3 separate regions of the Homo sapiens genome follow, and regions 1 and 3 are each linked to region 2. Evidence: fine-mapped expression QTL. A gene starts in region 2. Each other region holds a variant in brackets. All regions are shown on one strand. Distances are from middle to middle. Region 1 has its middle 140 kb from the start of LINC02380. Region 2 holds the start of POLR2B (RNA polymerase II subunit B). Region 3 has its middle 23 kb from the start of NOA1.

What was found.
Region 1: its variant is fine-mapped to the expression of POLR2B in monocytes (BLUEPRINT, PIP 0.95).
Region 3: its variant is fine-mapped to the expression of POLR2B in whole blood (TOPMed, PIP 0.97).

What each region holds. Positions count from the first base shown.
Region 1 is chr4:57,560,492-57,568,633 of GRCh38, forward strand. No RefSeq gene overlaps it. Among named protein-coding and RNA genes, the nearest start is that of LINC02380, 140 kb to the left of the region's middle. The variant T/C (reference allele first, on the strand shown) is at 4,748.
Region 2 is chr4:56,975,505-56,983,646 of GRCh38, forward strand. POLR2B (RNA polymerase II subunit B) reads left to right here and starts at 3,392. Exons shown (of 25, transcript NM_000938.3): 1 at 3,392-3,500. The coding sequence starts at 3,482. NOA1 (nitric oxide associated 1) reads right to left here and starts at 2,102. Exons shown (of 7, transcript NM_032313.4): 1 at 938-2,102. The coding sequence starts at 2,081. RefSeq lists enhancers at 1,335-1,394, 1,775-1,844, 3,666-3,765 and a silencer at 1,595-1,674.
Region 3 is chr4:56,950,835-56,958,976 of GRCh38, forward strand. No RefSeq gene overlaps it. Among named protein-coding and RNA genes, the nearest start is that of NOA1, 23 kb to the right of the region's middle. The variant T/C (reference allele first, on the strand shown) is at 5,005.

The sequences.
Region 1 (8,142 bases), 580 kb after region 2:
CTACATATGGCTAGCCAGTTTTTCCAGCATCATTTATTAAATAGGGCATCCTTTCCCCATTTCTTGTTTTTGTCAGGTTTGTCAAAAATCAGATGGTTGTAAATGTGTGGCATTATTTCTGAGGACTCTGTTCTGTTCCATTGGTTTATATCTCTGTTTTGGTACAAGTACCATGCTGTTTTGGTTACTGTAGCCTTGTAGTATAGTTTGAAGTCAGGTAGTGTGATGCGTCCAGCTTTGTTCTTTTTGCTTAGGATTGTCTTGGCAATGCAGGCTCCTTTTTGGCTCCATATGAACTATAAATCAGTTTTTTTCCAATTCTGTGAAGAAAGTCATTGGGTCATTGGTAGCTTGATGGGGATGGCACTGAATCTATAAATTACTTTGAGCAGTATGGCCATTTTCATGATATTGATTCTTCCTATCCATGAGAATGGAATATTCTTCCATTTGTTTGTGTCCTCTTTTATTTCGTTAAGCAGTGGTTTTTAGTTCTTCTTGAAGAGATCTTTCACATCCCTTGTAAGTTGGATTCCTAGGTATTTTATTCTCTTTGAAGCAATTGTGAATGGGAGTTCACTCATGATTTGGCTCTCTGTTTGTCTGTTATTGGTGTATAAGAATGCTTGTGATTTTTGCACATTGATAATATATCCTGAGATTTTGTTGAAGTTGCTTAACAGCTTAAGGAGAATTTGGGCTGAGATGATGGGGTTTTCTAAATATACAATCATGTCCTCTGCAAATAGGGACAATTTGACTTCCTCATTTCTTAATTGAATACCCTTTATTTCTTTCTCCTGCCTGATTGCCCTGGCCTAAACTTCCAACACTGTGTTGAATACAAGCGGTGAGAGAGGGATTACTTATCTTGTTCTGGTTTTCAAAGGGAATGCTTCCAGTTTTTGCCCATTCAGTATGATATTGTCTGTGGGTTTGCCATAAATAGCTCTTATTATGTTGAGATACATTCCATCAATATCTAGTTTACTGAGAGTTTTTAGCATGAAGCGTTGTTGAATTTTTTCGAAGGCCTTTTCTGCATCTATTGAGATAATCATGTGGTTTTTGTCATTGGTTCTGTTTATGTGATGTTTTACGTTTATTGATTTGCATATGTTGAAGCAGCCTTGCATCCCAGGGATGAAGCCTTCTTGATCGTGGTGGATAAAATTTTTGATGTGCTGCTGGATTCAGTTTGCCAGTATTTTACTGAGGATTTTTGCATCAATGTTCATCAGAGATATTGGCTAAAATTCTCTTTTTTTGTTCTGTCTCTGCTAGGCTTTGGTATCAGGATGATGCTGGCCTCATACAATGAGTTAGGGAGGATTCCCTCTTTTTCTGTTGATTGGAATAGTTTTGGACGGATTGGTACCAGCTTCTCTTTCTACCTCTGGTAGAATTCGGCTGTGAATTCTTCTGGTCCTGGACTTTTTTTGGTTGGCAGGCTATTAATTATTGCCTCAATTTCAGAGCCTGTTATTGGTCTATTAAGAGATTCAACTTCTTCCTGGTTTAGTCTTGGGAGTGTATGTGTCCAGGAATTTATCCGTTTCTTCTAGATTTTCTAGTTTATTTGAGTAGAGTTGTTTATAGTATTCTCTGATAGTAGTTTGTATTTCTGTGGGATCGGTGGTGATATCCCCTTTATCATTTTTTATTGCGTCTATTTGATGCTTCTCTCTTTTCTTCTTTATTAGTCTTGCTAGCAGTCTATCAGTTTTATTGATCCTTTCTAAAAACCAGCTCCTGGATTCACTGATTTTTTTTTTTTTTTCTTGAGACTTTTCCTTTTTTTTTTTTTTTTCATGATCTTTTTTTTTTTTTTTTTTTTTATTATACTCTAAGTTTTAGGGTACATGTGCACATTGTGCAGGTTAGTTACATATGTATACATGTGCCATGCTGGTGCGCTGCACCCACTAATGTGTCATCTAGCATTAGGTATATCTCCCAATGCTATCCCTCCCCCCTCCCCTGACCCCACCACAGTCCCCAGAGTGTGATATTCCCCTTCCTGTGTCCATGTAACCTCATTGTTCAATTCCCACCCATGAGTGAGAATATGTGGTGTTTGGTTTTTTGTTCTTGCGATAGTTTACTGAGAATGATGGTTTCCAATTTCATCCATGTCCCTACAAAGGATATGAACTCATCATTTTTTATGGCTGCATAGTATTCCATGGTGTATATGTGCCACATTTTCTTAATCCAGTCTATCATTGTTGGACATTTGGGTTGGTTCCAAGTCTTTGCTATTGTGAATAGTGCCGCAATAAACATACGTGTGCATGTGTCTTTATAGCAGCATGATTTATACTCATTTGGGTATATACCCAGTAATGGGATGGCTGGGTCAAATGGTATTTCTAGTCCTAGATCCCTGAGGAATCGCCACACTGACTTCCACAATGGTTGAACTAGTTTACAGTCCCACCAACAGTGTAAAAGTGTTCCTATTTCTCCGCATCCTCTCCAGCACCTGTTGTTTCCTGACTTTTTAATGATTGCCATTCTAACTGGTGTGAGATGATATCTCATAGTGGTTTTGATTTGCATTTCTCTGATGGCCAGTGATGATGAGCATTTCTTCATGTGTTTTTTGGCTGCATAAATGTCTTCTTTTGAGAAGTGTCTGTTCATGTCCTTTGCCCACTTTCTGATGGGGTTGTTTGTTTTTTCTTGTAAATTTGTTTGAGTTCATTGTAGATTCTGGATATTAGCCCTTTGTCAGATGAGTAGGTTGCGAAAATTTTCTCCCATGTTGTAGGTTGCCTGTTCACTCTGATGGTAGTTTCTTTTGCTGTGCAGAAGCTCTTTAGTTTAATTAGATCCCATTTGTCAATTTTGGCTTTTGTTGCCATTGCTTTTGGTGTTTTGGACATGAAGTCCTTGCCCACGCCTATGTCCTGAATGGTAATGCCTAGGTTTTCTTGTAGGGTTTTTATGGTTTTAGGTTTAACGTTTAAATCTTTAATCCATCTTGAATTGATTTTTGTATAAGGTGTAAGGAAGGGATCCAGTTTCAGCTTTCTACATATGGCTAGCCAGTTTTCCCAGCACCATTTATTAAATAGGGAATCCTTTCCCCATTGCTTGTTTTTCTCAGGTTTGTCAAAGATCAGATAGTTGTAGATATGCGGCATTATTTCTGAGGGCTCTGTTCTGTTCCATTGATCTATATCTCTGTTTTGGTACCAGTACCATGCTGTTTTGGTTACTGTAGCCTTGTAGTATAGTTTGAAGTCAGGTAGCATGATGCCTCCAGCTTTGTTCTTTTGGCTTAGGATTGACTTGGCAATGCGGGCTCTTTTTTGGTTCCATATGAACTTTAAAGTAGTTTTTTCCAATTCTGTGAAGAAATTCATTGGTAGCTTGATGGGGATGGCATTGAATCTGTAAATTACCTTGGGCAGTATGGCCATTTTCACGATATTGATTCTTCCTACCCATGAGCATGGAATGTTCTTCCATTTGTTTGTGTCCTCTTTTATTTCCTTGAGCAGTGGTTTGCAGTTCTCCTTGAAGAGGTCCTTCACATCCCTTGTAAGTTGGATTCCTAGGTATTTTATTCTCTTTGAAGCAATTGTGAATGGGAGTTCACCCATGATTTGGCTCTCTGTTTGTCTGTTGTTGGTGTATAAGAATGCTTGTGATTTTTGTACATTGATTTTGTATCCTGAGACTTTGCTGGAGTTGCTTATCAGCTTAAGGAGATTTTGGGCTGAGACAATGGGGTTTTCTAGATAAACAATCATGTTGTCTGCAAACAGCGACAATTTGACTTCCTCTTTTCCTAATTGAATACCCTTTATTTCCTTCTCCTGCCTGATTGCCCTGGCCAGAACTTCCAACACTATGTTGAATAGGAGTGGTGAGAGAGGGCATCCCTGTCTTGTGCCAGTTTTCAAAGGGAATGCTTCCAGTTTTTGCCCATTCAGTATGATATTGGCTGTGGGTTTGTCATAGATAGTTCTTATTATTTTGAGATATGTCCCATCAATACCTAATTTATTGAGAGTTTTTAGCATGAAGGGTTGTTGAATTTTGTCAAAGGCTTTTTCTGCATCTATTGAGATAATCATGTGGTTTTTGTCTTTGGCTCTGTTTATATGCTGGATTACATTTATTGATTTGCGTATATTGAACCAGCCTTGCATCACAGGGATGAAGCCCACTTGATCATGGTGGATAAGCTTTTTGATGTGCTGCTGGATTCGGTTTGCCAGTATTTTATTGAGGATTTTTGCATCAATGTTCATCAAGGATATTGGTCTAAAATTCTCTTTTTTGGTTGTGTCTCTGCCCGGCTTTGGTATCAGAATGATGCTGGCCTCATAAAATGAGTTAGGGAGGATTCCCTCTTTTTCTATTGATTGGAATAGTTTCAGAAGGAATGGTACCAGTTCCTCCTTGTACCTCTGGTAGAATTCGGCTGTGAATCCATCTGGTCCTGGACTCTTTTTGGTTGGTAAACTATTGATTATTGCCACAATTTCAGAGCCTGTTATTGGTCTATTCAGAGATTCAACTTCTTCCTGTTTTAGTCTTGGGAGAGTGTATGTGTCGAGGAATGTATCCATTTCTTCTAGATTTTCTAGTTTATTTGTGTAGAGGTGTTTGTAGTATTCTCTGATGGTAGTTTGTATTTCTGTGGGATCGGTGGTGATATCCCCTTTATCATTTTTTATTGTGTCTATGTGATTCTCTTCTCTTTTTTTCTTTATTAGTCTTGCTAGCGGTC[T/C]ATCAATTTTGTTGATCCTTTCAAAAAACCAGCTCCTGGATTCATTGATTTTTTGAAGGGTTTTTTGTGTCTCTATTTCCTTCAGTTCTGCTCTGATTTTAGTTATTTCTTGCCTTCTGCTAGCTTTTGAATGTGTTTGCTCTTGCTTTTCTAGTTCTTTTAATTGTGATGTTAGGGTGTCAATTTTGGATCTTTCCTGCTTTCTCTTGTAGGCATTTAGTGCTATAAATTTCCCTCTACACACTGCTTTGAATGCGTCCCAGAGATTCTGGTATGTGGTGTCTTTGTTCTCGTTGGTTTCAAAGAACATCTTTATTTCTGCCTTCATTTCGTTATGTACCCAGTAGTCATTCAGGAGCAGGTTGTTCAGTTTCCATGTAGTTGAGCGGCTTTGAGTGAGATTCTTAATCCTGAGTTCTGGTTTGATTGCACTGTGGTCTGAGAGATAGTTTGTTATAATTTCTGTTCTTTTACATTTGCTGAGGAGAGCTTTACTTCCAACTATGTGGTCAATTTTGGAATAGGTGTGGTGTGGTGCTGAAAAAAATGTATATTCTGTTGATTTGGGGTGGAGAGTTCTGTAGATGTCTATTAGGTCTGCTTGGTGCAGAGCTGAGTTCAATTCCTGGGTATCCTTGTTGACTTTCTGTCTCGTTGATCTGTCTAATGTTGACAGTGGGGTGTTAAAGTCTCCCATTATTAATGTGTGGGAGTCTAAGTCTCTTTGTAGGTCACTGAGGACTTGCTTTATGAATCTGGGTGCTCCTGTATTGGGTGCATAAATATTTAGGATAGTTAGCTCCTCTTGTTGAATTGATCCCTTTACCATTATGTAATGGCCTTCTTTGTCTCTTTTGATCTTTGTCGGTTTAAAGTCTGTTTTATCAGAGACTAGGATTGCAACCCCTGCCTTTTTTTGTTTTCCATTGGCTTGGTAGATCTTCCTCCATCCTTTTATTTTGAGCCTATTTGTGTCTCTGCACATGAGATGGGTTTCCTGAATACAGCACACTGATGGGTCTTGACTCTTTATCCAACTTGCCAGTCTGTGTCTTTTAATTGCAGAATTTAGTCCATTTATATTTAAAGTTAATATTGTTATGTGTGAATTTGATCCTGTCATTATGATGTTAGCTGGTGATTTTGCTCATTAGTTGATGCAGTTTCTTCCTAGTCTCGATGGTCTTTACATTTTGGCATGATTTTGCAGCAGCTGGTACCGGTTGTTCCTTTCCATGTTTAGCGCTTCCTTCAGGAGCTCTTTTAGGGCAGGCATGGTGGTGACAAAATCTCTCAGCATTTGCTTGTCTATAAAGTATTTTATTTCTCCTTCACTTATGAAGCTTAGTTTGGCTGGATATGAAATTCTGGGTTGAAAATTCTTTTCTTTAAGAATGTTGAATATTGGCCCCCACTCTCTTCTGGCTTGTAGGGTTTCTGCCGAGAGATCCGCTGTTAGTCTGATGGGCTTTCCTTTGAGGGTAACCCGACCTTTCTCTCTGGCTGCCCTTAACATTTTTTCCTTCATTTCAACTTTGGTGAATCTGACAATTATGTGTCTTGGAGTTGCTCTTCTCGAGGAGTATCTTTGTGGCATTCTCTGTATTTCCTGAATCTGAACGTTGGCCTGCCTTGCTAGATTGGGGAAGTTCTCCTGGATAATATCCTGCAGAGTGTTTTCCAACTTGGTTCCATTCTCCACATCACTTTCAGGTATACCAATCAGACGTAGATTTGGTCTTTTCACATAGTCCCATATTTCTTGGAGGCTTTGCTCATTTCTTTTTATTCTTTTTTCTCTAAACTTCCCTTCTCGCTTCATTTCATTCATTTCATCTTCCATTGCTGATACTCTTTCTTCCAGTTGATCGCATCGGCTCCTGAGGCTTCTGCATTCTTCACGTAGTTCTCGAGCCTTGGTTTTCAGCTCCATCAGCTCCTTTAAGCACTTCTCTGTATTGGTTATTCTAGTTATACATTCTTCTAAATTTTTTTCAAAGTTTTCAACTTCTTTGCCTTTGGTTTGAATGTCCTCCCGTAGCTCAGAGTAATTTGATCGTCTGAAGCCTTCTTCTTTCAGCTCGTCAAAATCATTCTCCATCCAGCTTTGTTCTGTTGCTGGTGAGGAACTGCGTTCCTTTGGAGGAGGAGAGGTGCTCTGCGTTTTAGAGTTTCCAGTTTTTCTGTTCTGTTTTTTCCCCATCTTTGTGGTTTTATCTACTTTTGTTCTTTGATGATGGTGATGTACAGATGGGTTTTCGGTGTAGATGTCCTTTCTGGTTGTTAGTTTTCCTTCTAACAGACAGGACCCTCAGCTGCAGGTCTGTTGGAATACCCTGCCGTGTGAGGTGTCAGTGTGCCCCTGCTGGGGGGTGCCTCCCAGTTAGGCTGCTCGGGGGTCAGGGGTCAGGGACCCACTTGAGGAGGCAGTCTGCCCGTTCTCAGATCTCCAGCTGCGTGCTGGGAGAACCACTGCTCTCTTCAAAGCTGTCAGACAGGGACACGTAAGTCTGCAGAGGTTACTGCTGTCTTTTTGTTTGTCTGTGCCCTGCCCCCAGAGGTGGAGCCTACAGAGGCAGGCAGGCCTCCTTGAGCTGTGGTGGGCTCCACCCAGTTCGAGCTTCCTGGCTGCTTTGTTTACCTAAGCAAGCCTGGGCAATGGCGGGCGCCCCTCCCCCAGCCTCGTTGCCGCCTTGCAGTTTGATCTCAGACTGCTGTGCTAGCAATCAGTGAGATTCCGTGGGCGTAGGACCCTCTGAGCCAGGTGTGGGATATAGTCTCGTGGTGCGCCATTTCTTAAGCCGGTCTGAAAAGCGCAATATTCGGGTGGGAGTGACCCGATTTTCCAGGTGCATCTGTCACCCCTTTCTTTGACTCGGAAAGGGAACTCCCTGACCCCTTGCGCTTCCCAGGTGAGGCAATGCCTCGCCCTGCTTCGGCTCGCGCACGGTGCGCACACACACTGGCCTGCGCCCACTGTCTGGCACTCCCTAGTGAGATGAACCCGGTACCTCAGATGGAAATGCAGAAATCACCTGTCTTCTGCGTCGCTCACGCTGGGAGCTGTAGACCGGAGCTGTTCCTATTCGGCCATCTTGGCTCCTCCTCCCGGATTCACTGATTTTTTGAAGGGTTTTTTGTGTCTTTATCTCCTTCAGTTCTGCTCTGATCTTAGTTATTTCTTGCCTTCTGCTAGCTTTTGAATTTGTTTCCTCTTGCTTCTCTAGTTCTTTTAATTGTGATGTTAGGGTGTTGATTTTAGATCTTTCCTGCTTTCTCTTGTGGGCATTTAGTGCTGTACATTTCCCTCTACACACTGCTTTAAATGTGTCCCAGAGATTCTGGTACGTTGTGTCTTTGTTCTCGTTGGTTTCAAAGAACATCTTTATTTCTGC
Region 2 (8,142 bases):
CCTGTAATCCCAGCGCTTTGGGAGGCCAAGAGTTCCAGACCAGCCTGGCCAACAAGGTGAAACCCCATCTCTACTGAAAATACAAAAATTAGGCCAAGCGCGGTGGCTCACACCTGTAATCCCAGCACTTTGGGATGCTGAGGCGGGCGGATCACGAGGTCAGGGGTTTGAGACCAGCCTGACCAACATAGTGAAACCCCGTCTCTACTAAAAATATAAAAATTAGCTGGGCATAGTGGCGTGCGCCTGTAATCCCAGCTACTCAGGAGGCTGAGGGAGGAGAATCACTGGAACCCGGGAGGCGGAGGTTACAGTGAGCCACTGCACTCTAGCCTGGGCAACAGAGCAAGACAAGACTCCGTCTCAAAAAACAAAACAAAACAAACACAAAAATTAGCTTGGTGTGGTGGCGCATGCCTCGAATCCCAGCTACTAGGGAGGCTGAGGCAGGAGAATCACTTGAACCCGGGAGGCGGAGGTTGCAGTGAGCCGAGATCACGCCACTGCACTCCAGCCTGGGCGACAGAGTGAGACTCTGTCTCCAAAACAAAACAAACAAACAAAACACAAAGTTCATTAGGTTCAGACAGTAAAAAGGACGCACACTTTCTGGAACAATATACAAAGAAGTTACAAAGCAAATCTCCAGAACAGGAACTTTGCTTTGTTCCCTGGTCTATCTCCAGTGCTTAGTGACTGGGAACAGAGACGTGCTCCATAAACACTTCCATTGAAAATTACTACAACACATCCTCAATTTTCCCTAGCAGTAAGCTGACACAGAAGAGAGGTGTGACCAGAGTGGGGAGAGAATTTGTAAAGGGAAGGGTACAGGCAGCCCGCAGTGGACATTAAGGGAGGATGTACTCGGTGCCTCGGCCAGGACCAGACGTCCACCTTGCCAGGAAACGAAGAGGGCGAGCCTCCTAAAACTCACCTGGCCAAGGGGAGATGGTGGCTCTGTCGATGGCCTCGGAGCCCTTGGCAGTGCAGTAATCGGACTCCAGGAGCGTGTTAAAGAGAGTGGATTTGCCGGCGTTGGTGGCGCCCACTAAGTAGACGTCCCCACGGTAGCGCCAGGAGCGCTGAAGGGCAGAGATCAACTCTTCCACTCCATAGCCGGTCTTGGCGCTGATCAGCCGCACGTCCCTGACCACTGTGCGGGACCAGTTCGGCGGATTCGGATTCTCCCCGTCCTGTGGCTCGTCCTTGACGGGGCGCTGTGGCCCTTGGTGGCCAGGGGCCAGCAGGAGCCCGGCGCGGGCACAGTCCTCCCACAGTCGCTCCCGCAGCCTCTGCCGGTAGCCAGGAGCATCCTGGGGCAGGAGGTCCACTTTGTTTCCCAGCACGATCAGCTGCTTGGGGCCCACCAGCGCGGGCAAGTCGGGCAGCAGGGCGTCGGGCAGGTCCAGCAGGTCCACCATGTAGAGCACCAGGGAGGGGCCGGGCCGCCGCAACGCGGCGCTCACCAGCTCCAGGTACTGCTCGCGGCTCACCTGCAGGCGTAGAGCGCGCCGGTGGTGCGACAGCAGCCAGCAGCGCTGGCACACGGTCCGTGCCAGCCCGCCGTCTGCCTCCGCCGTGCGGAGGAACTTCTCTCGGGGCAGGTAGCCGGGCACTCCGGCGTCCTGGCAGTGCAGCTCTGCCCCACAGCCCGAGCAGTTCACGCCGCTGGGCGGCAATGCCGGGTCCGGGTGCCCCACGACCGGGTGCTCCCGGGACCTGGCCCGTAGGTTTTGCTGTCGCCGCTCCTCCCGCCGCTGCTGCCTCTGTCGCTCCTCCTCCTCCTGCTGTTGCTGGAGCTCCTGCAGCTGCTTTTCGCGGGTGGGTTGCGGCTCCGGATCCAGGATGTACTCCGGGAACAGAAAACGCTCCTGCATGTCACCACCTTCTCCAAAGCCCTCCGTGTCCACGGGGTCATAAGGAAGCTCGCGTCCCAGACTCGATGAGTGCTGGAAGGAGGAGGCGGCAGCGCACCTCCTCTCCAGGAGCGGCTCCCGGAGGCCATGGCGCGCTGCCGTGGGAGCGGATCCACGAAGGAAAAGGCTCAGCAGCCTGAACGGTAGGCGAGCGGGCAGCATGAGGAAGTAGCTCCAAAGGGGCGGAGCCACCAGCGCGCACGCGCACTAGGGTCCGAGGCGCGCATTTGACCCGAGACGAAAGCGCGTGGGTACTTGGGAGCTGTCCTGGTTGGTTTTGCGTCTAATCCCGTCAGTTCTCGCGATTTAAGCTCTGAGACTGAGAACCTACTTAAAGCTATGGCAAAGGCACTGGAGGATTGAGCTAGGTGGGCAGAAAAGAGCAGTGAGTGTTTTGGGTTTTTTCACTTTCAGGCTTAACGCCTCACTGCTAGCACAAGCCGCCCTTAATAAATCACACTTAAAAAGGAGCTTCCGGGGTCGGGCGCGGTGGCTCACGCCTGTAATCCCAGCAATTTGGGAGGCCGAGGCGGGCGGATCATGAGGTCAGGAGATCGAGACCATCCTGGCTTACACGGTGAAACCCCCATCTCTGCTAAAAATACAAAAAATTAGCCAGGCGTGGTGGCGGGCGCCTGTAGTCCCAGCTACTCGGGAGGCTGAGGCAGGAGAATGGCTTGAACGCGGGAGGCGGAGGTTGCAGTGAGCCGAGATCGCGCCACTGCACTCCAGCCTGGGCGACAGAGCGAGCCTGTCTCAAAAAAACAAAACAAAACAAAAACAGAAAGGAGCTTCCGGCCGGGCGCGTGGCTCACGCCTGTAATCCCAGCACTTTGGGAGGCCGAGGCGGGTGGATCACCTGAGGTCAGCAGTTCGAGACCAGCCTGGCCAACGTGGTGAAACCCCGTCTCTACTAAAAATACAAAAATTACCCGGGCGTGGTGACCCTTGCCTGTAATCCCAGCTATTTGGGAGGCCGAGGCAGGAGAATCGCTTGAACCCGGGAGACGGAGGTTGCAGTGAGCCGAGATCGCTCCACTGCACTCCAGCCTGGGCGACAGAGCGAGACTCCATTTCAAAAAATAATAAATAAATAAAAATAAAAAATAGCTTCGTGTTTTGGTCCTTATAAAGGCAAATAAATTGAGCATCCCAATGTTGCGGATTCACAGGACGAACACTTTTTAATAATAAGTATACCTGGTTTTGTTTTCAGGTGTCGTTATTTGTGCAACAACATTGAAAAACAAGCAGAAATAAAACATTGACGGAACGGATACGACCGCAGATTGCGGGAGCTGTCCTCTCAATCAGCCCGGCAGCGGCGGCCCACAATTTACGCGTGTGCAACCCTAACCCCGGCCCAAGCTTGACCTACAATTTGCGCAGGCGCAGATCCTAACTTTGGCGTCCCTGTGGGCGGCCTTTGGTGTGAGACGCGTGGTATTCTGGGAACGTCGGAGACGGAAGTTACTTCGTCTTTAGCTCCTGGCGCTGCTGGCTTCTGGGCGGTTTTTGTCTTTTGATTTCAAGAGTTAGGAGCTCGAGAACCGTTTGGCAATATGTACGACGCGGATGAGGGTAGGTGAACGCTCAAAACACACGCCGTGGCGGTCCATTTAAGCAGGAAAGCGTTGGGAACTGATTGGATTGAGGATTTGGGGCCTTCCCATGCGCCGGCTGCACAGTCCCCAGCCTTGTTCCCACACTTACCAGGCCGGGAACGAAACTGGGGTAGGGAGAGGCGGAGGGTGCAGGGAACATAGTGTTAATGTTCCAGGTTACGTTCACTGCTGCTCTCTGCACTTTCTCGTTCCGTTAGATCTGATCCTCGTTTCCTGTGGTGAAGTAGCGTGCAGAATCGTAAGATAAATTACGTTTTGAATTTGAAGCAAAGGGCACCCTTTAAAAATTTTCCTTAAAGCCACAGTCGACTTAACGAATAGCTCAATTGTTGAGTGTCAGCCTGTGTCAGGCAGTGTGGAAGGTCCTGGAAATATTCCGGGACAGAGAATATCGGGGGGTGGGGGTGGCGGGGGGGACTCGGTTTAGTCTGACATTTCTTCATACTGTTTGTAAGTCAAAGTAAATTGTCTTAAAGGATGACTTTTAACTTCCTCTTCTCACAATGTCACAGTTCTCAGATGATATGTATTCTGCTGCACTGGGCCAATGTATAATACCTGTTTGTTTGCGCATATGGAATTCTTAGTAGTGGCCGAGCGCGGTGGCTCCCGTCAGCACTTTGGGAGGCCGAGATGTGCAGATCGCTTGAGACCAACCTGACAAACATGGGGAAATCCTGTATCTACTAAAAATACAAAAATTAGCCTAGTGTGATGGCGTGCGCCTGTAATCCCAGCTACTCGGGAGGCTGAGGCCGGACGATCGCTTGAGCCCAGGAGGCGGAGTTTGCAGTGAGCTGAGATCGCACCACTACACCACAGCCTGAGTGACAGAGTTAGACTGTCTCAAAAAAAAAAAAAAAAAATTCTTAGTTGAGTCTAGTGTATTTTCGTAGCCGCCTTTTCCATTCTCCATATCTGCTAATTCAAACCTTATTTTCTTATAGCTCTCAATTCCTTGGCCACCCCCTACATCTCCTCTCTCTATTCCCTCAGGTACTTCTGATAAATCAGATGGAAAAAATTGAAGCAAAAGCTTAATTTTTTTTTTTTTTTTTTAAGAGATGGGGTCTGGCCATGTTGCCCAGGCTGGTCTCAAACTCCTGAGGTCAAACCATCTGCCTGTCTCGGCCTCCCAAAGTGCTGGGATTACAAGCATGAGCCAATGTGCCCAGCCAAAAGCTTAAACTTTTAAAGCTGTTTAAACTTCTGTCTCATTTATATCTTGTGTTGTAGAAATTTATTAGCATCATTATATTCCTTGTTCTTTTTTAACTACTATCTCAGTAGAAGAAAAATTCGAAAAAAAAGATTTTTAAAGCATAATTTTTGGCTGGGTAATATATTCTCATAGCTCACAAGCCAGAAAATTTAAAAATGTTAAAGTGGGGTGGCTGGTGCAGTGGCTCACGCCTGTTATCCCAGCATTTTGGGAGTCTGAGGCGGGTGGATTACTTGAGCTCAGGAGTTCGAGAGCAGCCTGGGCAACATGGGAGACCCCTCTCTATAAGAAATAGAAAAATTAGCTGGGCGTGGTCTTGCTCACCTATAGTCCCAGCTACTTGTGGGGCTGAGGCTGGAGGATCGCTTGAGCCTGGGAAGTTGACACTGCTATGAGCTGAGAACAAAGTGAGACCTTGTCTCAAAAAAAACAAGTTAAAGTGTCACGTCTCCTTCTTACCCACCATCTGCCCAGTTTGAACTCTCCACAGTGGGTAACTACAGTTATAACAGTTATAAGAGGTTCTTATCACTCCACAGTTTCTTTTTTTTTTTTTGATGGTCTTGCTCTGTTGCCCAGGCTTGAGTGTGGTGGCGCAATCTCGGCTCACTGTAACCTCCATCTCCCAGGTTCAAGCAGTTCTCCTGCCTCAGCCTCCCGAGTAGCTGAGATTACAGGCGTACACCACCGTGCCCAGCTAATTTTAGTATTTTTAGTAGAGATGGTTTCTCCACGTTGGCCAGGCTGATCTCAAACTCCTGACCTCAGGTGATTCACCTGCCTCGGCCTCCGAAAGTGCTGGGATTGCAGGTGTGAACCTCCAAGCCCAGCCTCCACAGTTTCCTTATGCATATTTAAGCAAATATAAATGGGATTTTCTCTTTTTTTAAAGACAGTAATATTCACACTTTTCTCCACTTTTAGATTTTGTTTAATGTGTCCAGGAGATTTTCGTATCAGTACACAGAAAGCATCGCGCCCCCCCTCCCGTGTCCCCACCCCCAGTTACTTAGTTTGTGTGGATGTACCATAACTTAAGTAGTCTCTTGATGGATATTCGGTTTATTTCTAGTCATTTTCGGGTTCAAACAGTGCTGTAAATGAATAATCTTGTACGTATAATTTGCCCAAGTATGTCTGTGGGATACATTTCTACATATAAAATTGTCAGGTCAAATGATATGCACGTTTAACATTTTGCTAGATGATGCCAAGTGACCACCATAGTGGTGATTGTACTAATTTTGCATTCTTATTAGCAATGTATAATGATCCTGTGGAAAAAGAGTTTATCAGGGTTGCTTTAGCAGTGAACCTACATTTTATTGCCCATGTCCTCTGAAATGTTTATTAGATAACGTCCTCATCAGTTTTCAGTCACTATGTGAAAATGTCAGATTTCTGTCATCCACATGGAAACAAGTTAAATTCTTTTCATTGTTACCTTTTTCTTCTAGTATTTTACCTTTCTTCTTTCACTCACAGCCAAACTTATAAAAATAATAAGCTGTCCTTGTTTCTAATTTTCATCTTTCATGTGCTTTTCAACTGATTACAATATGTTTCTACTCATGCTACTACATTAAGATAGCTCTAAGATTGACAGCGACTTCTCAATTGATAAATGAGATGGATATTTAAAACTTATCTAAACCCTGTGGTCTTCAAAACTGTTGATGACATCTTCCCGGAAACTCACTCAGCTTTCTAGCGACATCACTTTCACTTGATTTTTCTTATCTGACTTTTCTCATTTTCTTTCCTGTTCACATTCTCCTTGGGTGATCTCATCCATTTTCCATTGTTTCAGTTACCATCTGTATGCGGATAACTTCTGAATGTGTATACTTCTAGTTTAAAATCTGGGGTATCTAACTGCCACTAGCCAACTAGGATATCTCCCAGGCTGCTTAACCTTGTCAACTGCCCAAACTGAGCTAATTATTTTCTTTTGCTATTCCCCTCCCAAAGCCACTGCCTCCTGTCTTCTCTGTCTCGGTGAAGGGCACATTTGGCCCTCTGTATCTGTAGGTTTCACATCTGTATATTCAATTAACCTTGGATTGAAAATATTAAAAAGCTTGAGGCCAGGAATTTGAGACCAGCCTGGGCAACATAGGGAGACCTCATCTCTACAAAAAAATTTAAAAAATTAGCTGGGCATGGTGGCATGTGCCTGTGATCCCAGCTCCTCGGGATACTGAGGTGGGAGGACTGCTTGAGCCCTAAGAATTTGAGGCTACAGTGAGCTGTGATCACACCACTGCACTTCAGCCTGGGTAACAGCAAGGCCCTGTCTCAAAAAACAAAAAAGAGAATATTAAAAAAAAATTGCGTCCTTGTAAAAATGTACAGACTTTTTTTTTCTTGCCATTATTCCATAAACATTACAAGTAAATAATTATTTATATAGCATTTACATTGTATTAGGTATTATAAATAATCTAGAGATAATTTAAAAGATACAGGAGGATGTGTGCCTAGGGTATATAACAGTGCCATTTCATGTCAGGGACTTAAGCATCTGTGTTTGGTATCTATGGGAGGTCCTGAAACCAGTCTCCAATGGACACTGAGGTACAACTGTTGTACCCTCTGTTGTTGAAACCGAAAGCCTGGGCATCATTTTTGACTCCTCTCTTTCACCTCTATATCTAATCAGTCACCAAGCCCTGTTGGTTCTGTCTCCTAAATATGTCAAATCTGGCCACTTCTCTATCCCCTCCACCATCATTCTAGTTCATGTTGCTGCCATCCCTTGCCTAGATTACTCCTAACTGATTTGTATACTTCCAATCCACTCTCCACACTGGCCATAGGGATCTTTCAGAAATGAAAATCTGACCTAGCCACAACCCTGCTAAACTCATATCTCTTGGTAAAGGCCAAACTCTTCTTATTCCACTTCCAACTTCACAATCTGTGCTTCCGCTACATTGGCCTTCTATCATTCTTTGAATATGCCATCCTGTCTTGCATTATGGGGTCTTTTGCACAATTTGTTTTTTTCTATTTGGTAGGATTCTTTCTTGACTCCTACCTTTGTCCCTTCCTTTTGCCTGATTACTCCTGTTTATAACACGAGATCTCTGCTCAGGTTTTTTTTTTTTTTTTTTTTTTGAGATGGAGTTTCCCTTTGTCCCCCAGGCTGGAGTGCAGTGGTGTGATATCGGCTCACTGCAACCTCTGCCTCCCAGGTTCAAGTGATTCTTCGCCTCAGCCTCCTGAGTAGCTGGGATTTCAGGGATGCGCCACCATGCCCTTCTAATTTTTGTATTTTTAGTAGAGACGGGGTTTCACCATGCTGGCCAGGCTGCTCTCAAACTCTTGGCCTTGTGATCCACCTGCCTTGGGTTCCCAAACTGCTGGGATTACA
Region 3 (8,142 bases), 25 kb before region 2:
GGCAGGAGAATTGCATGAACTCAGGAGGTGGATGTTGCAGTGAGCTGAGATCGTGCCACTGCACTCCAGCCTGGGTGACAAAGCAAGACTCTATCTCAAAAAAAAAAAAAAAAAAAAAAAAAGGAAAGGAATAAAAGAATGGCTACTCCATGGACAGAGCAGCCCCGAGAGCTACTGGTTCCCCATTTTTATGGTTATTCCTATGCCAAACAAGGGGTGGATTATTTATGCCTTCTCTTTTTGGACCATGTAGGGTAACTTCCTGATGTTGCTGTGGCATTTGTAAACTGTCATGGCGCTGGTGGGAGTGTAGCAGTGAGGATGACCAGAGGTTGCTCTCATCACCATTTTGGTTTTGGTTGATTTTGGCCGGCTCCTTTACTGCAACGTGTTTTATCAGCAAGGTCTTTATGACCTGTAATTTGTGCTGACCTCCTGTCTCATCCTGTGACTTAGAATGTCTTAACCATCTGGGAATGCAGCACTGTAGGTTTCAGCCTCATTTTACCCAGCTCCTATTTAAGATGAAGTTGCTCTGGTTCACACACCTCTGACATTCATACCTATGTGGGCAATGTGCCTTGTAGCAGAACCTGGAAAATCTCAAGATATTCCCTGAGACCTATGCAGATCCCCAGATTTCAAGTCTTGCCAGAATGCTTGATCACTTTCATTAGAGTAAGTGGCCTCTTCAAACTTAATAACCTTGTAAATATATGATGAAATTAATTCATAAAGCATTTAAAAATCACCTTTTGGCCAGGTGTGGTGGCTCATGCCTGTAATCCTAGCACTCTGGGAGGCCGAGGTGGGCAGATCACTTAAGGTCAGAAGTTAGAGACCAGCCTGGCCAACATACTGAAACCTCGTCTCTACTAAAAATACAAAAATTAGCCAGGCATGGTGGTACACGCCTGTAGTCCCAGTTACTCGGGAGGCTGAGGCAGAAAAATCGCTTGAACGAAGTGGAGGTTGCAGTGAGCCGAGATTGTGCCACTGCACTCCAGCCTGGGCGACAGAGCAAGACTCCATCTCAAAAAAAAAAATTGGCTTTACACCTTTTTGACCAATGTTTTTTTCATCTTGATAGTTTTTACACTAACTGATGGGGACAGTTCAAGTAGTTTCTTTTTGGATTTCAACACTATCACATCTCTAGATACCCCAATATAAGATTCTTTTTTTTTTTTTTTTTTGAGATGGAGTCTCGCTCTTTCACCCAGGCTGGAGTGCAGTGGCGCGATCTTGGCTCACTGCAAGCTCTGCCTCCTGGATTCACACCATTCTGCCTCAGCCCCCCAAGTAGCTGGGACTACAGGCACCCGCCACCGCGCCCGGCTAATTTTTTGTATTTTTAGTAAAGACGGGGTTTCACCGTGTTAGCCAGGATGGTCTTGATCTCCTGAACTCGTGATCCGCCCACCTCGGCCTCCCAAAGTGCTGGGATTACAGGCGTGAGCCACTGCACCCAGCCCCAATATAAGATTCTAGTAAAACATGGAGTTGAAGATGGATTTAGGAACAAAGGGACCTCCTATATGGTTCTCCTTGTTCCCTGCCTCCCCTTCTGTCTCAGTATGGGCCCAGTGTGCTCTGGCAGGACAAGCGGGTGTGGGGAGGGGAGGGATAGAGATGCGAAAATGCTGGCAGATGGCCACTGCTAAAAGGGGTTCTGAAATTACTTCCAGCCACACGGCCTCCCCACCTCTCTCCCTGGTTATGGAGCCAGGAAAAGAAACGAGTTTGTATGGCTTCAGGACCCTCAGCTTGAACTCTGCCTCAAACCCTTGTCCATTTTTCTTTCTTGGAGAGCAGTAGGATACTATTTTGAGACATGAAGGCCCTTCATTTCTGTGTTCTCATTACCTTCCCCATTACAGAGACTTCCCAGGTAGAGGACTTCCTAGGATAGCTTTCTTCTAGTATAAGTACTGGAGCTAGAGGGAGAGATAGCCCAGAATTGAGTCTGCATGGATTTTTTTTTTCATTGAAATTTACCCAAGTAATATGTACACATTAATAAGTAAAAACAAAATATTCCTAAAGGATTTATGATAAAATCAAAAGCTGAAAATCTCTCCCCACTTCTTTGCTCGTCATATAGCAGCTCTGTGTATCAGACTTCTGAGGTAAATTTAAATTAGGATAATATTTCTCTTTTTTTCTTTTCTTTTCTTTCTTTCTTTATTTTTTTTAAGACGGAGTTTCATCTTGTTGCCCAGGCTGGAGTGCAGTGGCGCAATCTTACCTCAACACAACCTCTACCTCCCAGGTTCAAGCGATTGTCCTGCCTCATCCTCCTGAGTAGCTGGGATTACAGGCATGCACTACCATGCCCAGCTACTTTTTATATTTTTAGTAGAGATGGGGTTTCACCATGTTGGTCAGGCTGGTCTCGAACTCCTGACCTTAGGTGATCCACCTGCCTCTGCCTCCCGAAGTGCTGGGATTACAGGCATGAGCCACTGTGCCTGGACTCAGTATTTCTTATTTGATAGATTTATATTGGATTTTTTTTTTTTTTTTTGAGATGGAGTCTCACTCTGTCGCCCAGGCTGGAGTGCAGTGGTGCAATCCCGGCTCACTGCAACCTCCACTTCCCAGGTTCCAGGTTCAAGCGAGTCTTCTGCCTCAGCCTCCTGAGTAGCTGGGACTACAGGCACACGCAACCACACCCAGCTAATTTTTGTATTTTTAGTAGAGGCGGGGTTTCACCATATTGGCCAGGCTGGTCTCGAACTCCTGACCTCGTGATCCACCCATCTTGGCCTCCCAAAGTGCTGGGATTAAAGGCTTGAGCCACCGTGCCCGGCCTGGATTCACTTTCTATAGGCCAATTAGATAGCACATTATATTTGTATTTTCTTCAGGGTGATCAACGCCAAAAGCTTGTGATGGATTAAAATAGCCACAAATTCCAGTACATGTTTGAATCTGTGCTGCCATTGTGACTTGCTTTGACCAATAAATGCAGCAGAAGTGGCACTGTGTGACTTTGAGCTTCGGCCTCCAGAGGCTTTGCAAGCTCTACTCTCAGGCTTTTTGTGAACACTGTCACCTTGTGAACAAGCTTGAACTAGCCTACTTGAGGATGAGACCCTTGGAAGAGAGAGTGATCAATGGAAAATGCCTCACTTGCTCAGCTGTTACAACCATCTCAGCTGAAACTCCTGTGCGTGAGGTCAGCCTGGCTGTGTGCTGTGTGCAAATGCATGTCGCCACAGAGCAGAAGTACCATTGAGCGGAGCCTAGATTAAGTTGCCAAACTAAAGAATGGGAGCAAATAATCGCTTGGTTCAAGTCACCAAGTTTCAGGGTGGTTTGTTATTCAGCAATAGATGTGGATATAAACCTAATCATGTCCTCAAACCTAGTTAATAAAAAAGAAGCATTTTCAACGAACAAATGAGCAACTGTACCTAGAAGTGACTTACTCCATGCCCAACGGGGGAGTTAGTGGGTACATGGGACAGTTACACATTGTTCTCCTTTGTTGAACAGTCTCTTGTCCACGTTCCCATGCTGAAAAATTTTAACACATTTCTCAGAATTAGCTTTACATAAAGCTTTATTTATCTAATGAAAAAGCTAGTGTTTCAGTAAAATACATCTTTTATCTGGTATTTTAAAGGAAAGCAGCCCCATTTCTTTAATTTGCCTTCCTGTTGAGTATTTCACCATAGTTTTTTTTTTTTTTTTTTTTTTTTAAAAGACAGAGATTCGCTCTTGTTGCCCAGGCGGGAGTGCAATGGCGCGATCTCAGCTCACTGCAACCTCCGCCTCCTGGGTTCAAGCGATTCTCCTGCCTCAGTCTCCCGAGTAAGCTGGGATTACAGGCGCCCGCCACCATGCCTGACTAATTTTGTATTTTTAATAGAGATGGGGTTTCTCCACATTGGTGAGGCTGGTCTCAAACTCCCAACCTCAGGTGATCTGTCTGCCTTGGCCTCCCAAAATGCTGGGATTACAGACGTGAGCCACCGTGCCCGGCCTCACCACAGAGTTTAAAGTCGAAGACAGGGAAAAAAAAGATAAATCTATTTAGGTCAAATGCTAAATGCTGAGCAAAACTTGCAATAATAGAAAGCTTTTAATTGGACAACCCAGTAACTCCTGTTTAGGGAAAGTCAGTAAGATGTAGCAAGAAACAGGCAACTGGATTGAGAGCTACACAAGTAGGAAAAGCAGGGGCATTTAAACAAGTTCAGGGCCAAATTATCAAATTGGTTTTTGAGGCTTTTTGATTTGCAAGTAAATGGGGATCACCGGTTCTAATCTCATGAGTAGGATTAGGATGAAAAATTACAGTCTCTTTTCTATGATAGTTTAGTGTAATTTTTGGATGTTTGCTTCCCAAATTTTCTGTATATCGAATTTACTATTTTCTTAATCAGAATTGTGGGTAAGGATTTCCATGCATGCTGTGATCTGTCCGTGGTACTTGGCAAGCTCATCAGCAATGTGAAAGATTCCCAGCCAGCCAGGGAAGCACAGTCCATTTAAAGCCATCTGAGGTGGTGAGAGAGCATGGAAATCAAACTGGGATACCTGTTTTGGTTTGGGCAGCAGTGCTGAAGTAAGACAGCAAGGGCACAGCACATTACACACACACACACACACACACACACACACACACACTGCTCTGAGACAAATGCTCAGGGAGAAATTATATATGGTAGAATTCAAAGGAAGCCAGAAGGAGATTAAGTGGTAGTTGTCCAGAATTCCCGAGAGAATTGTGCTATTATCTTTGAAGGTCTTCAAAGTAGGTTTCCTTCCTAAGGTTGAAAAATTCTCACCTTTAGATTTGTTGATGGGTTTTAGTATATAGAGGAATTACTGTGCAGTGGTTGAAGACATGGATATTGATGGAACTGTTCTTTTTTTTCTTTTTTTTGAGATGGAGTCTCACTCTGTTGCCCAGGCTGGAGTGCAGTGTTGTGATCTTGGCTCACTGCAACCTCTGCCTCCCGCGTTCAAGGGATTCTCCCTGCCTCAGCCTCA[T/C]GAGTAGCTGGGATTACAGGTACCCGCCACTATGCCTGGTTAATTTTTGTATTTTTAGTAGAGACGTGGTTTCACCATCTTAGCCAGGCTGGTCTTGAACTCCTGACCTCATGATCCACCTGCCTCAGCCTCCCAAAGTGCTGGGATTACAGGCCACTGTGCCCGGCCAGAACTGTTCTATATTGTGATTATGGTGGTCATTAAACAAACATATACGTGTGATAAAATCCATAGAACTGTACATGAAAACAAAGTCTGTTATAATTAAAAACCCCAGGCTGGGCACACGGTGGCTCACACCTGCAGTCCTAGCACTTTGGGAGGCCAACTCAGGAAGATCGCTTGAGCACAGGGGTTTGAGACCAGCCTGGGAAATATAGTGAGACCTTGTTTCTACAAAAAATTAAAAAATTAGTTGAGTGCGGTGGCGTGTGCCTGTAGTCCAGCTACTTGGGTGGCTGACATGGAAGGATTGCTTGAGCCTGGGAGGTGGGTGCCATAGTGAGCTGAGACTGTGTCACTGCACTCTAGCCTGGGTGACAGAGTGAGAACCTTTTTCAAAATAAAACAACGAAGCCCCACATGAGTTCTGGAGATAGAGTGCCTGGGTTTGTTTGAATCACAGCTCCATCACTTATTAGTTAGATCCTGGGTAAGTTATTTGTGCCTCAGTTTCCTCATCTGTAAATGTGGGTAATAATAGTATTTCTGCATGGGGTTGCTGTAAGGATTCAGTTAATATATGTAAAGCACTTGAAAGAGTGCCTGGCTCATTTTATTACTATATAAGTGATAGCTATTATTATTATTATATAAGTATAAAGGAGTAAAAAGATATATGGGCTATCATATGATTATAGCAACTACGAGTAATCTGAAGTCTGAAATACAACAACCATGAGGTACTGGCTTTATGCAGGAAAGGAAGAAACTCTATAAGAGGTTAGTGTAAATGCTACTAAGCAAATTTAAGTTTGCTCTTTCCCTATTTTCCAGGGAAGGCAAAAACCAAGCAAACAAAAAAATCCTCTCACTCTATTGATCCATTCATTGAATGTCTGCTATTTTCTTTTTCTTTTCTTCTTTTTTTCTGAGACGGAGTCTCACGCTGTCGCCTGGGGCTGGTGTGCAGTGGCACGATCTCGGCTCGCTGCAACTTCTGCCTCCCAGGTTCAAGCAATTCTCCTGCCTCAGCCTCCCGAGTAGCTAGGATTACAGGCATGTGCCACCTTTGTATTTTTAGTTGAGACGGGGTTTCACTATGTTGGCCAGGCTGGTCTCAAACTCCTGACCTCGTGATCCACCTGCCTCGGCCTCCCAAAATGCTGGGATTACCGGGGTGAGCCACCACGCCCAGCCATGCCTGCTATTTTCTAGGGCTTACTGAAAGGTTAGAAAGGATCTTGGCAGTCTTTCACTTCCATATATTTCACTTCCAATATCACCTGACACATGATGATGTATTCTCTAACGTGTCTGCTTGTTTTGTGTATGTGTGACCTCAGTTTTTTCCAATTTACCACAGCTACCAGGTAGAGGTACTGACGGTGTCTGTGATTAAGCATCATACTATTACAGCATCTACCAATAAGAATATTAAGACCAAATAAATTCTCCCACTAGATTGACTACACAGTAGGTAAATTCGGAGAATTATTTGCGAAGCCAAAAGCAGCTTTTGAAAGCAGGAACCTGGGAATCCAAGCAGTGGGTGTTTTGAGGATGATCCAGATACACTTAGGAGTATTCAGATCATGAAACTCCATGACATGAAGGGAAAAGGTGAGGCATCACTGCAATATGATGTTAAAATAGTAATCTTGGCCTGGTGTGGTGGCTCACACCTGTAATCCCAGCACTTTGGGAGGCTGAGGTGGGAGGATTGGTGAAGCTAGGAGTTTGAGACCAGCCTGGGCAACAAAGTGAGACCCTGTCTCTACAAAAATAAAAAATTTAGCTGGGTGTGGTGGCACCTGCCTATAGTTCCAGCTACTCGGGTGGCTGAGGCGGGAGTATCACTTGAGCCCAGGAGGTCAAGGCTGCGTTGAGCTGTGATTACACCACTACACTCCAGCCTGGGCAGCCGAGTGAGACCCTGTCTCTGAAAAAATAAAACAACAACAACAAAACAAAAAACAAAAAAACCTATCTTGAACCATTCCCCTCTCACGACAAGGTCTTAATGGGGGCAGATAATATGACAGAGAGACATTCAGAGCAGGCAGAGGTGTCATCGATTTGATTCACGAGTCTGAAATCTTGTTTTTAATGTTTAAGCATTACTCTTTGACAATTGAGAGAAAACAATCCCCCTGGGAGGAGGAAAGTGGCCAAAAGAAAATGGAACAGCTGAGAAAGAATGGAAATGATTCTAATGCTCCACGACACAGAGCCAAGTGGGAGGGAAGCCAGGGTAAATGATCCGAGCCCGTCTATGAAACAGCCCGCCTCAGCTTGCGCGCTGGGTGCTTACTCAGTGAAGCAATAACAACTCTGTCATGGCTGACACAGCTGGAGCTCCTCCATGTTAGTCAGCTGCAGGAAACCAGCCTATGTCCATTGTGCAAGAAGAGTCTGAACACTAGAGACACAGGCACACAAGATTGCATCTCTACTCCGCTTCTCCTTGGTTGTTATGGGAAGTGAGTGTCTCAAGTTAAATAAACTAGACTCTGGGGAACTATACAGTAAAGACTTAGTGATCGGCACAGCTTGGCATTTATGGTGATTAAAGATACAAAACATATTACAACTTTAATTTGTCTTAGTAACTTTGAAGAAGATGTTGTTATTTTAGTTTAATTAGAGGGGGGAAAAGCAGAGGGATTACGTGTAACTTTTTAAAATAAAACTTTGAACCTAATATCACATAAAAGTCAAAAAGTACTTTGATGGAATTTATTTTACTTCTTTTGGGTGTCATGAATACAAAAGAGGTGACATGCTCAACACCACAGTGCTGCAGAGCCAGGTAAACAATCTAGAATAAACTTGCTTCATTGTTTTCTAGCAACCCCTAACCACCTCTGTGATCTGTGGAAGTGAGGAGTTGGTACTTTGCCCTTAATTTCTCCTCCCGTTCCTGGCCAGAAGAGCCCACTAATTCTTGTACCCTGTCATAGTGTAAGTGACTACTGA